Regions from separate parts of the Homo sapiens genome. Here regions 1 and 2 are each reported to be linked to region 3. Evidence: microRNA targets listed by miRTarBase, many of them from high-throughput screens and not tested one by one. Region 3 holds a microRNA gene; each other region holds the end of a gene's coding sequence.

Evidence for each region. The annotated mature microRNA hsa-miR-583 reads CAAAGAGGAAGGUCCCAUUAC and lies in region 3 at 1,445-1,465, opposite strand. An mRNA with a match to its seed (bases 2 to 7 or 8) in the 3' UTR can be bound and repressed. Matches are read on the target gene's strand: a 7mer-m8 pairs with bases 2 to 8, a 7mer-A1 pairs with bases 2 to 7 and ends in A, and an 8mer does both.
Region 1: the mRNA of HNRNPDL is a reported target of hsa-miR-583. The part of its 3' UTR that is shown has no 7-base or 8-base seed match.
Region 2: the mRNA of DDX5 is a reported target of hsa-miR-583. Seed matches in the 3' UTR shown: 7mer-A1 at 502-508.

What each region holds. Positions count from the first base shown.
Region 1 is chr4:82,423,630-82,426,629 of GRCh38, forward strand. It overlaps HNRNPDL (heterogeneous nuclear ribonucleoprotein D like), which reads right to left. Exons shown (of 8, transcript NM_031372.4): 6 at 2,834-3,000; 7 at 2,408-2,500; 8 at 1-1,254. The coding sequence ends at 2,430. Among named protein-coding and RNA genes, the nearest start is that of HNRNPDL, 5.3 kb to the right of the region's middle.
Region 2 is chr17:64,497,022-64,500,383 of GRCh38, reverse strand. DDX5 (DEAD-box helicase 5) reads left to right here. Exons shown (of 13, transcript NM_004396.5): 13 at 58-2,130. The coding sequence ends at 461. POLG2 (DNA polymerase gamma 2, accessory subunit) reads left to right here and starts at 3,330. Exons shown (of 8, transcript NM_007215.4): 1 at 3,330-3,362. It also overlaps a transcript of MILR1 not described here. RefSeq lists enhancers at 3,053-3,192, 3,294-3,362.
Region 3 is chr5:96,077,256-96,080,617 of GRCh38, reverse strand. It overlaps MIR583 (microRNA 583), which reads right to left and starts at 1,480; the gene lies at 1,406-1,480. All of the region lies in intron 1 of LOC101929710 (a long non-coding RNA gene), which reads right to left. It also overlaps a transcript of CAST not described here.

The DNA.
Region 1 (3,000 bases), not on the chromosome of region 3:
TCCCAGTAAATAACACTGAGGCCAAGGTCCCAAAATCCAACTACACTGAATGCAAAATCCAAAGCTTTTTATTATTCCAGGTCCTCTGAAACCTGGATATAAAACGGATTCTTTTCAATGCACCCAGAGGGTCCACTGTAATGACTCAGTCACATTTGTAATGACTTAGTCACATTTGTAATGACTTTGTCATAACCAAGATACCTTTTCCACTATTCCTTTCTGAATATGTAAATATTTAACTACTTAGTTCATGCACTGTGTCAAAAACTAGATTTACTATCAAGACTTTTTCTAAACTCACAGAGCATTAACAGCTAATACAACTTCCTCAGGATGCCCAAACAGAAAACATTTTGTTCAATCTTGTGGCGGCTCTGAGAAAACACAACTAAATCTTATTTTGCCACTATTTTAATTTTTCGACCAAACTCATACCTTTCTACCAAAATCCTTGAGTTGTAACTACTTCCAATGCTCTTAAACCATAGCTCCTACCAGTTTTACAGTGCTCCTTTTGTATCTGAACTTTTATCAAGAATTACTCATTGTGTTATGATTACAAAGCTTTTTCTAGGTGACCACTGATTAAAGCCAAAGTAATCAGCAATTCAAAAATGGCTTTCCAGAGACAGGAACAAAGTAAAAGGAGCTACTAACAATTTTATTACAATCCAGAAGAAATATGGTCTACTAGAAAGCTTCTACTAATCACAACACTTATGTCTTCCTTTCAGGACAGTCTTCAGATAACCAGAAGGGAAAGAACATTGTTCAAAGGTGTGGTAGAAATCTCAGTTACAGGGAGAAGATGAAGCCTTAAGAGCATAAAATACACCTACAAATTGGAGAAGAGGGTGACGCTGGCTGGCTATTTATAAAGGACCACAGTTTCTCTGTATGGACCAATACTCTACAAAATCAACTGTGCCTTAATTATTGCTTATTTTAAATTACATTTTTTACAGAGCTATGTAGTACCTGACGCAGAAAAGCAATCACATAAGGAAGCATTTATTTGAGGTTTAACATGAAATGATACAAATAAAATGTGTATAAACAAATCCACATTGAGTCATAACACAGATAGCAAAGGACAAAGTAAAAACAAAGAAAACTAATTGGCAGCTATATACAGTTGGACACAATGGTGTCTTGTACACTAGAAAGTCTTTTACAAAATAATCATCTTAGATCAACAGAAGACCAATCTTCAATGTCGTCCTGCAAGATGGGTTACTTTAACATCTCCTCCTAAAAACAAAAACAAAATACCAGTTAGATTTGTGCAACTCTGACAAGCTTTTAAAGGTCCACTTTCATGAATTGTTTTAAGTCCTCACTTTATTTTCTTCAATAATTAAAGATCATATGCATATTTATTGGTAAAATACAGTTTGGGTAGTCAATAAACTCACCCTGGAGTTCCCAAATGACATTAAATTCAAATCTATTCAGGAAAGAATCTGGGAATACAACCTTCCCATATTCAGAGGTTCAACTATGCTAGATTAAGGTCTACTAGAAGCATCTCTAGTAACCCAAGTAAAATGCTATCACAAACACCAATTTCTAATAAGTTTATTACAAGAACATAAATTGATCTGTGCATATGATCTTTAATTTATATCCCAGATTTAAAAGTTCTTGTTTTGGTTTGTAGATTTCACTATTAGCTATAAAAAGAAAAAGCAAGCATTAAATCTTAAAAGAATGAACACTTAAAATGAGGCTCCACAATTGAAATACAACACTAAACAGAAGACCAAAATGATTAAGCTGTAAAAAGGCATTTATGTACTTTAACTCCTGTAAAAAACCATTTAAGTTAAGTTTAGACACTTAATCTCCAAAAAGATTAAAAATGAAGCCAAAGTCTGAAGTTTTCCACTTTAATCTTTACGCTGGTACATGAAGTTGGAAGAGACCATACCACAGGACAGCGTTTTCTGGTGTATGCCTTGCGCTCTGCCCGCAACGTGCGACCCCCAGAGATAGACGTGGTCAGGGTGACACACGGCCTGCAATGAAGTTCCCGCTGGCGGGTACAAACAAGGTATAATGTCAGAGTTAGAAGACAACATTCTTGTTTTCCTTAAGTTGTACCCATTTCAGTACTTTACCTGTTAATAGTTCTAAAATGTTTAATTATTCCTCTAGACCACCTGGTACACAAAAGCAAACAGAAAAACTCTTAAGTTTTTCTGCAATACTAAAGAAAGTGAGATAAGACTTTAAAGTTAAAGATCTATAGACACTTTAGGCAAAACAGGCTCATAAAGCAATTAAAAAATCAACAATTTAGTAAAAACAGGCTACATAGTATTTTGTTTTTACGTTTCATTTGTCTATTGATCTTTAAATTAAATTAGACATTTCTACTGTTTTCCTGTACTCTTATACACACCTGTTTTCTCCAATGTTCTCCTTTAGTATGGCTGGTAATTGTTTTGGTGATTGCCACCCCCTCGAGATGCCTTGCCATAAGTGCTCTGTTGGCCTATTTTGAAAACACAGAATTCTCATTAAGATAGTTTTCTACAAAACTTTCTTTACAAACACAAACTATTAAATCTACAAATCTTTGCATGCTAAATAAAAAGTATTAAGATATTTTAGCACCCATTAGATGCTACTCATAAATCATACATCCTAGTTCATTTATAACCACCAGTCTATGTTAGTATAATCATCCTATGATTGTAACATGCCTCAAACACTTAACTCCGAACACTTTAATGGAAAGCCCATACACACAATTTCAGAACAGGATTGTATGTTAACAATGAATTTTAATACCACTGCTTTATAAAATTAAGTTAAATATTCTTACCACTGTAGTCTGCATATCCCTGTCCATATCCATAGTTCCCATAGTTATACCCAGTATAATCATATCCGCCATAGCCACTATAGTTTTGATCACCACCATAGGCACTATTGTAATTTCCATATCCTTGATCATAATAGTTATTAAATCCTTGGTTCCAGTTTTGGCCC
Region 2 (3,362 bases), not on the chromosome of region 3:
CCACAATGATTTGTGTCATAGACATAATTGATCAATTTGCAATTGTTTTCTTGACAGGTCGTTCCAGGGGTAGAGGAGGCATGAAGGATGACCGTCGGGACAGATACTCTGCGGGCAAAAGGGGTGGATTTAATACCTTTAGAGACAGGGAAAATTATGACAGAGGTTACTCTAGCCTGCTTAAAAGAGATTTTGGGGCAAAAACTCAGAATGGTGTTTACAGTGCTGCAAATTACACCAATGGGAGCTTTGGAAGTAATTTTGTGTCTGCTGGTATACAGACCAGTTTTAGGACTGGTAATCCAACAGGGACTTACCAGAATGGTTATGATAGCACTCAGCAATACGGAAGTAATGTTCCAAATATGCACAATGGTATGAACCAACAGGCATATGCATATCCTGCTACTGCAGCTGCACCTATGATTGGTTATCCAATGCCAACAGGATATTCCCAATAAGACTTTAGAAGTATATGTAAATGTCTGTTTTTCATAATTGCTCTTTATATTGTGTGTTATCTGACAAGATAGTTATTTAAGAAACATGGGAATTGCAGAAATGACTGCAGTGCAGCAGTAATTATGGTGCACTTTTTCGCTATTTAAGTTGGATATTTCTCTACATTCCTGAAACAATTTTTAGGTTTTTTTTGTACTAGAAAATGCAGGCAGTGTTTTCACAAAAGTAAATGTACAGTGATTTGAAATACAATAAATGAAGGCAATGCATGGCCTTCCAATAAAAAATATTTGAAGACTGAATTAAGTGGAAATTGTACTTTATTTTATATAATGTCATGTAAAACTTTGCTTAAGATGGTCTGGTTTTTTTTTTGTTTTTGTTTGGTTTTTTTTTTCCATGAAAACAAATGACTGTTCCTTTTTATTTAATTTGGGAGGCAGGGGGAATCAGAAGGCCCTTCTTTATAATGAGCTATTCATATTGCAGGAGTCAGAATGAATTGATACAGGTGAATTTTTAGTTACAGGCTAAATTGCATAAAAGCTTTGTCAGCTTCCAGCATCAGGGGAGTCATTTAATAGCCTTTTTCCTTATTTGCTAGTATGGTTAAATGAGAAAATAGTAAAATAGATACAAAGTCATCTATATAGTGTGAGAACGTGGGTGACTTTTTCAAAGTTTATAATTTAAAAAGCTCCAAATAACTGGCTTTTTCAAGAGACTTATACTCATGCTCTTGGCTATACTGTGAATTACTGAAATGTTGAACAAACCTGTGAAAGACATACATTAGCCCTTTAAGATGGCCAGGAGCTAAGCTTGAGTCTCCTTTACTGAATTTCGTTCTTAGTGCAGGTTACTTGTAGATTCTAGTCTTCACAGGCTCCCTGGGGCTCTTAACTAGTCACACTGGGAGTCATGAATGTCTTTCCAATAATTCAGGGAATTCTAGAGATCCTCAAACTGTAAGGTCTATTCATACTCAACACAAGGAAAAAACCTCATTAAAATTAATGACTAATCAGGAGGCAACGTAACCAAAAGCACAGTGAATGAAAGTTTTCATGGTAGGTTCAACATGGGTTTATTGCTAGAAAGATCCAGGGGATAGCTTTAGGTTTAACTTCGGCTCACCAACGTAACTTTCTAATCATTTATTTCAGTAATAGCTAGAAGTGGGTCTGAATGTTTTCCCAGAGTCTGATACGTGTTTTTTTTTGCCAGAAGAGAGGTCTTCAGGAGACTTCATTTAAATTCTGATTATTAAACTGAGGCTTTAATTGATGTTAATGCCTTATGTCAAATGTAAAGTTAGAATTTGCTAGGGCTGGGATAGGGAGTGATATTTCTAGGACTTAGACATTGAAAACTAATTCAGCCTGTAGTAACCTGGATGGTTTTCAATGGCATGGTTAGTCAAATTCATGGTTTTAAACTTAGAAGCAGCTTTCGGGGGAGAGGGTAGGTTGGAGCATTTATTACATATTTTACTGTTTAATGTCTTAACCGTGGGCCTTTTAATTTGTAAACACTGAAATGATTGTTGGGCTGTGGAAAACATTTACCTATTTACCTTGGAAGTTTTAAAAGACAGTCCACTTTTTAGCATGTGTGTTGTGTCCAGCCTGTGGTCGTCTTAACTAATAAATGTGATTTTTCTCCCCATTCTCTCTTTTTATTTATTTGCGTATAGGCCTTTTACCTGGTGTGAGTTCCTGAATGTGGAAAACACCTGGCAGTAGTACCCAGCTTTGCAGTTAATTACTATCTAGCTGGCCTTTTTTTAAACCCTTGTATACACTTGTAAAGAAGAACTATTTCCTGAACCTGGTACAGCACTTTACTAATGATAAAACTTTACTCCTGAATTACATTAACTCAATTGCTAAGCTGTTACCCCTCTTAATCAGGTAGTAGTTTGGTAGTCTCACAGTGAAATGTAGATTGTTCCTTTTTCCCTGAACCTCTTTAAAGGTTTTCGTAACTGAGGCTGGTATAAGAAATCATGGACTTTGGAATCAAACTTCCTCAGTCTGGGTATACCACTTTTCCACTTTCTGGGTAGGTCTTAAGGTCTCGACCTATTTAAATAGAAACTGCAAAATCAGAAACCTGCAATTTAATCATGAGTCTCTTAATAATAACAGTCACAAGTCTCATTGTTTTGATGAACCCATAGAAGGGGCCCCTGGAAGAAATTGCACGTACGTGGTTTTCTCTGACACCAGGAGGGTTTAAGACATGTCAGGGCCCCTTGGTTTATTTCTAGTGCATTCCCAGGTGAGGCAGATGCTGCTGGCTGGGGACTGCCCTTTGGAAGCCACTGCAATATTTAAAGTGACCATACCACTACCCTAGTCACGAAGCCTATCGCCCCCCTCCCCGGAAGCTTAAGCGTCAAGACAACGGCTCTGGGGTTAGGCCTAGGCCACCTGGCGGCAGCATTTGCCTAGTTAAGAAGGCCTGGGCTTACAAATCACCGTAAAGGACTAAAACTGTTTAAAGGGAAACCAAATGCCAAATTTAGTCCAAGTGCTTGATTGAGGTGTATATAGAAGGTGATTTGGATAATACTGAAGTATTTTAATTTTCTGGACTGCAAAACAGTGGCAGAAGGAAGTGACTCAAGTGGCTACACCACGGTTATAAATAGGTGGGAATAACCTTTACTGGTGCTTACGAGGAAAGAAAAAAGTCAATCTGAAGGGAGGGGCGCGACGCGAACGGCAAGCTAGCAGAGAACCATCCGAGCCGGCGTCCGCCATGGTGGGCGGGGGACGGCTGCGGCCGGAACGCAGACATGCGCTTCCGGGGTGGGGCCTGCCGCCCGCAAGCACGCTCACCTCCGTTGCGCCTGCGCCGTGGCCTCTCCGGATTCTGTTAACGGTAGTGGTGGC
Region 3 (3,362 bases):
GAACTGGAAGATACTTTAGGGATCATCTAATCTAATCCCTGCATGTAACAGATAAGGACACTGAGGTCCAAAATGATGAACTTTAATCTAATGTTCAAAAACAAATTAAGACTAAATTCAGACTTTCACTTATACCTATGGTCAGGAACTTTACTCTCAATTTGCCCTGCCAAACTATCTCCTTCAAGCCAAAATGAGCATGAATTATATCAGTATTTGTAATAAGCTTAGTAGTGAGATTTTGTCAAGTTTCAAGAAGAAAAACAGTTATCATCCAATGATAGCATTAATATTTTTAAAAGAGAAAGTCCTGTTTTCCAGGAAAGTATCCTAGTGAGATAATTTATGTAGAATGTATTATATGTGGATATCAGCATGATGTACTTCTGTTAGGTCCTTTAATGCCCATAACACCTCTTCAAGGTATATACTATTATTTATACCCATTTTGCAGATAAGAAAACTGAGGTACAGAAAGTTGAGTAACTTGTCCTAGGTTATATGGCTAATAAGTCGTAGGCCAGTAGCAGGCAGTCAAACCCATAATAATTATGCTTTTAACCACTACAAGATCATATTTCTCTTCATGCTGTTATTCAACCTATAGATATACTACAAATATACTTACAAAACCACACAAATGCACGAATATGTATATATAAGGCTTTTCAGGCAGTGGGGTTTGCTTTTTAAAAGACTAGAAATAACCTAAATACCTATTATTAGAGGACTACTTTAATAAATTAAGGCATATCCTCATCATAGGGCCATTTAAAAGAATAGGATAAAGCTATTTGTGCTGATATAGAAAAATTTCTAAGAAACAAAACATGGTTAAGTTAAAAATAATAATAACCAAGATGTATATAGTATGTTCCTAATTGATTCTTAAAGGTTGCTATATAAACAATATTGAAGTTTGATTACGTAGAGAATGTTTGTGGAAGGGTGCTAGCAAGTAATTAGTAGTGGTTGCCTCTGAAGGGGAGACAGAGAGAACTAGGGATGTGAAATGAGAAGGAAATTCATTTTTCATTGTATATCTTTTTTGTAATTTACACTTTTTACCATATACAAATAAGAGTTATTCAGACTTTACAAACTACATTTTTTAAATTGTCAACTAATGCAATTTTTTATCCCAAGATATCTCTTCAACCTTAAGAATTAGTAAAAAACATACTTAAAAGTGGTTTCAAACACCCAAGTTATCATGTTTGTATTTACCTATAAGAGAGCTCTTTAAAAAGACTAGCCTTCCTAACCCTTGCCAGGATATTGAATCATTCCTGACTCACAAGAGAAAATAGCCAAATGAGTAACAAGCCTGATGCCATTTGGTAAGTGGGAGCTCAGGACAAAGAGTGTGGGTAGGGAGTGAAATGAAGGGGGCCCAGGGGAAAGTACCAAAGAGGTAGGTCCCAGTACTGCTAAGATCCCTGCAGTAATGGGACCTTCCTCTTTGGTTAATGTGTGAGTTGTAAGATGTAAAGAACAGCCTTCCTATCATTTAAATAGGTTTTTTTTTAACTTTAAGTGCATGGGTACATATACAGGTTTGTTACATAGGTAAACTTGTATCATGGGGTTTTGTTGTACAGATTATTTCATCACCCAGGTATTAAGTCTAGAACCCATTAATTATACTTCCTGATCCTCTCCTGCCTCCCACCCAGCACCCTCCAAAAGGCCCCAGTATGTGTTGTTTCCCTCTATGTGTCCCTATGTTCTCATCATTCAGCTCCCACTTATAAGTGAGAACATGCAATACTTGGTTTTCTGTTCCTGTGTTAGTTTGTTAAGGATAATGGTTTCCAGCTCCATCCATGTCACTGTGAAATACATTCTTAAATCTCAACACATACCACATGCCATCATCAATACCCACAAGACAAATTATGCTTAGTGATTGATTTAACTTGACATTAAGTGCTCTAACTACTTTCTTTCCACTTGTTCTTTCTTGGTTTGTTTCATTGTGTTCTATACCTATTAATTCAATTTTTAAAAGCTTGATCAAGATGGTGAAACCCCATCTCTACTAAAATATGAAAAAATTAGCCGGGCGTGGTGGCACATTCCTGTAATCCCAGCTACTTGGGAGGCTGAGTCAGGAGAATTGCTTGAACCTGGGAGGCGGAGGTTGCAGTGAGCTGAGATTGCACCATTGCACTCCAGGCTGGGCAACAAAAGCAAAACTCCGTCTAAAAAAAAAAAAAGCTTGATCAGATGTTCATGAAAATTTACCCCTGTCTTTAAGAATCACCAAGTACCCCTTAATTAGGAGGCTGTGTACTTGGGTAGACTGAAGTGGCCTGAGGGAGAAGGGGAGTGTTAAGAACTAAATGTTTGTGTCTCTCCCAAAATTCATATGTTGAAACCCCAATGTCATGGTGTCTAGAGATGGGGCCTCTGGAAGGTATTTAGGTTTAGATAAGGACATGAGGGTCGGGCTGTCACGATGGAATTAGTACCTTTATCATAAGAGACAAGAGAGCTTGTGCTCTCTCTCCCTCTGCCATGTGAGGGCACAGCAAGAAGCAGGATAATTTCTTTATTATACCAATTTAATAGTTACATCTGCTAAATGTAAAATGTAGTGAGATGGTTTCAGATAAATCTCACCTAAGAAAAAAATGTTCTAATGTTCCTGGTCTGAAGATTACTATAGCATAGGTAATCCAGCTATCCAGTAGTCAAAGTGTACTGTTCCTTACAGAAATAGTAAAACAGATTAAACAAGTTAGTTCATCTTATGTTGAGGCTGGATAATTTATAAAGAAAAGGGGTTTATTTGGCTTATGGTTCTGCAGGCTGTACAGGAAGCATGGCACCAGCATCTGCTTGTGGTGAGGGCATCAAGCTGCTTCCACTCATGGTAGAAGGAGAAGGGGAGCCAGTGTGTGCAGTATCACATGGCAAGAAAGGAAGCAGGAAAGGGAGAAGGAAGGTGTCAGACCCTTTAACAACCAGTTATTTCAGGAACTAATAGAGGGAGAACTTACAAACTCCCTCCCCTCATCAGGAAGGGCATTAATCTATCCATGAGGGATCTGGCCCCATGACCTAAGCAGCCCCACAATTTCAACATGAAGTTTGGGTGGATCAAATATCCAGACGATACCACAGAATTCACATGCAAATAAATACAACTAGCAAAAACAATAAAATCCACAAAGAAAAATGTGTATCTGCCTAATAATCAAAGAAATGCAAATTAAAGCAAATAAATGATAATACCAAATATACATAAAATTGCAGAGAAAGTTATACAGTCATGCTATATACACTTTAAAAAGTATTTGTCAATAAATAGCAAGAACCCTAAAGATGTTCGTAATCTTAACCATTATAACATTTCT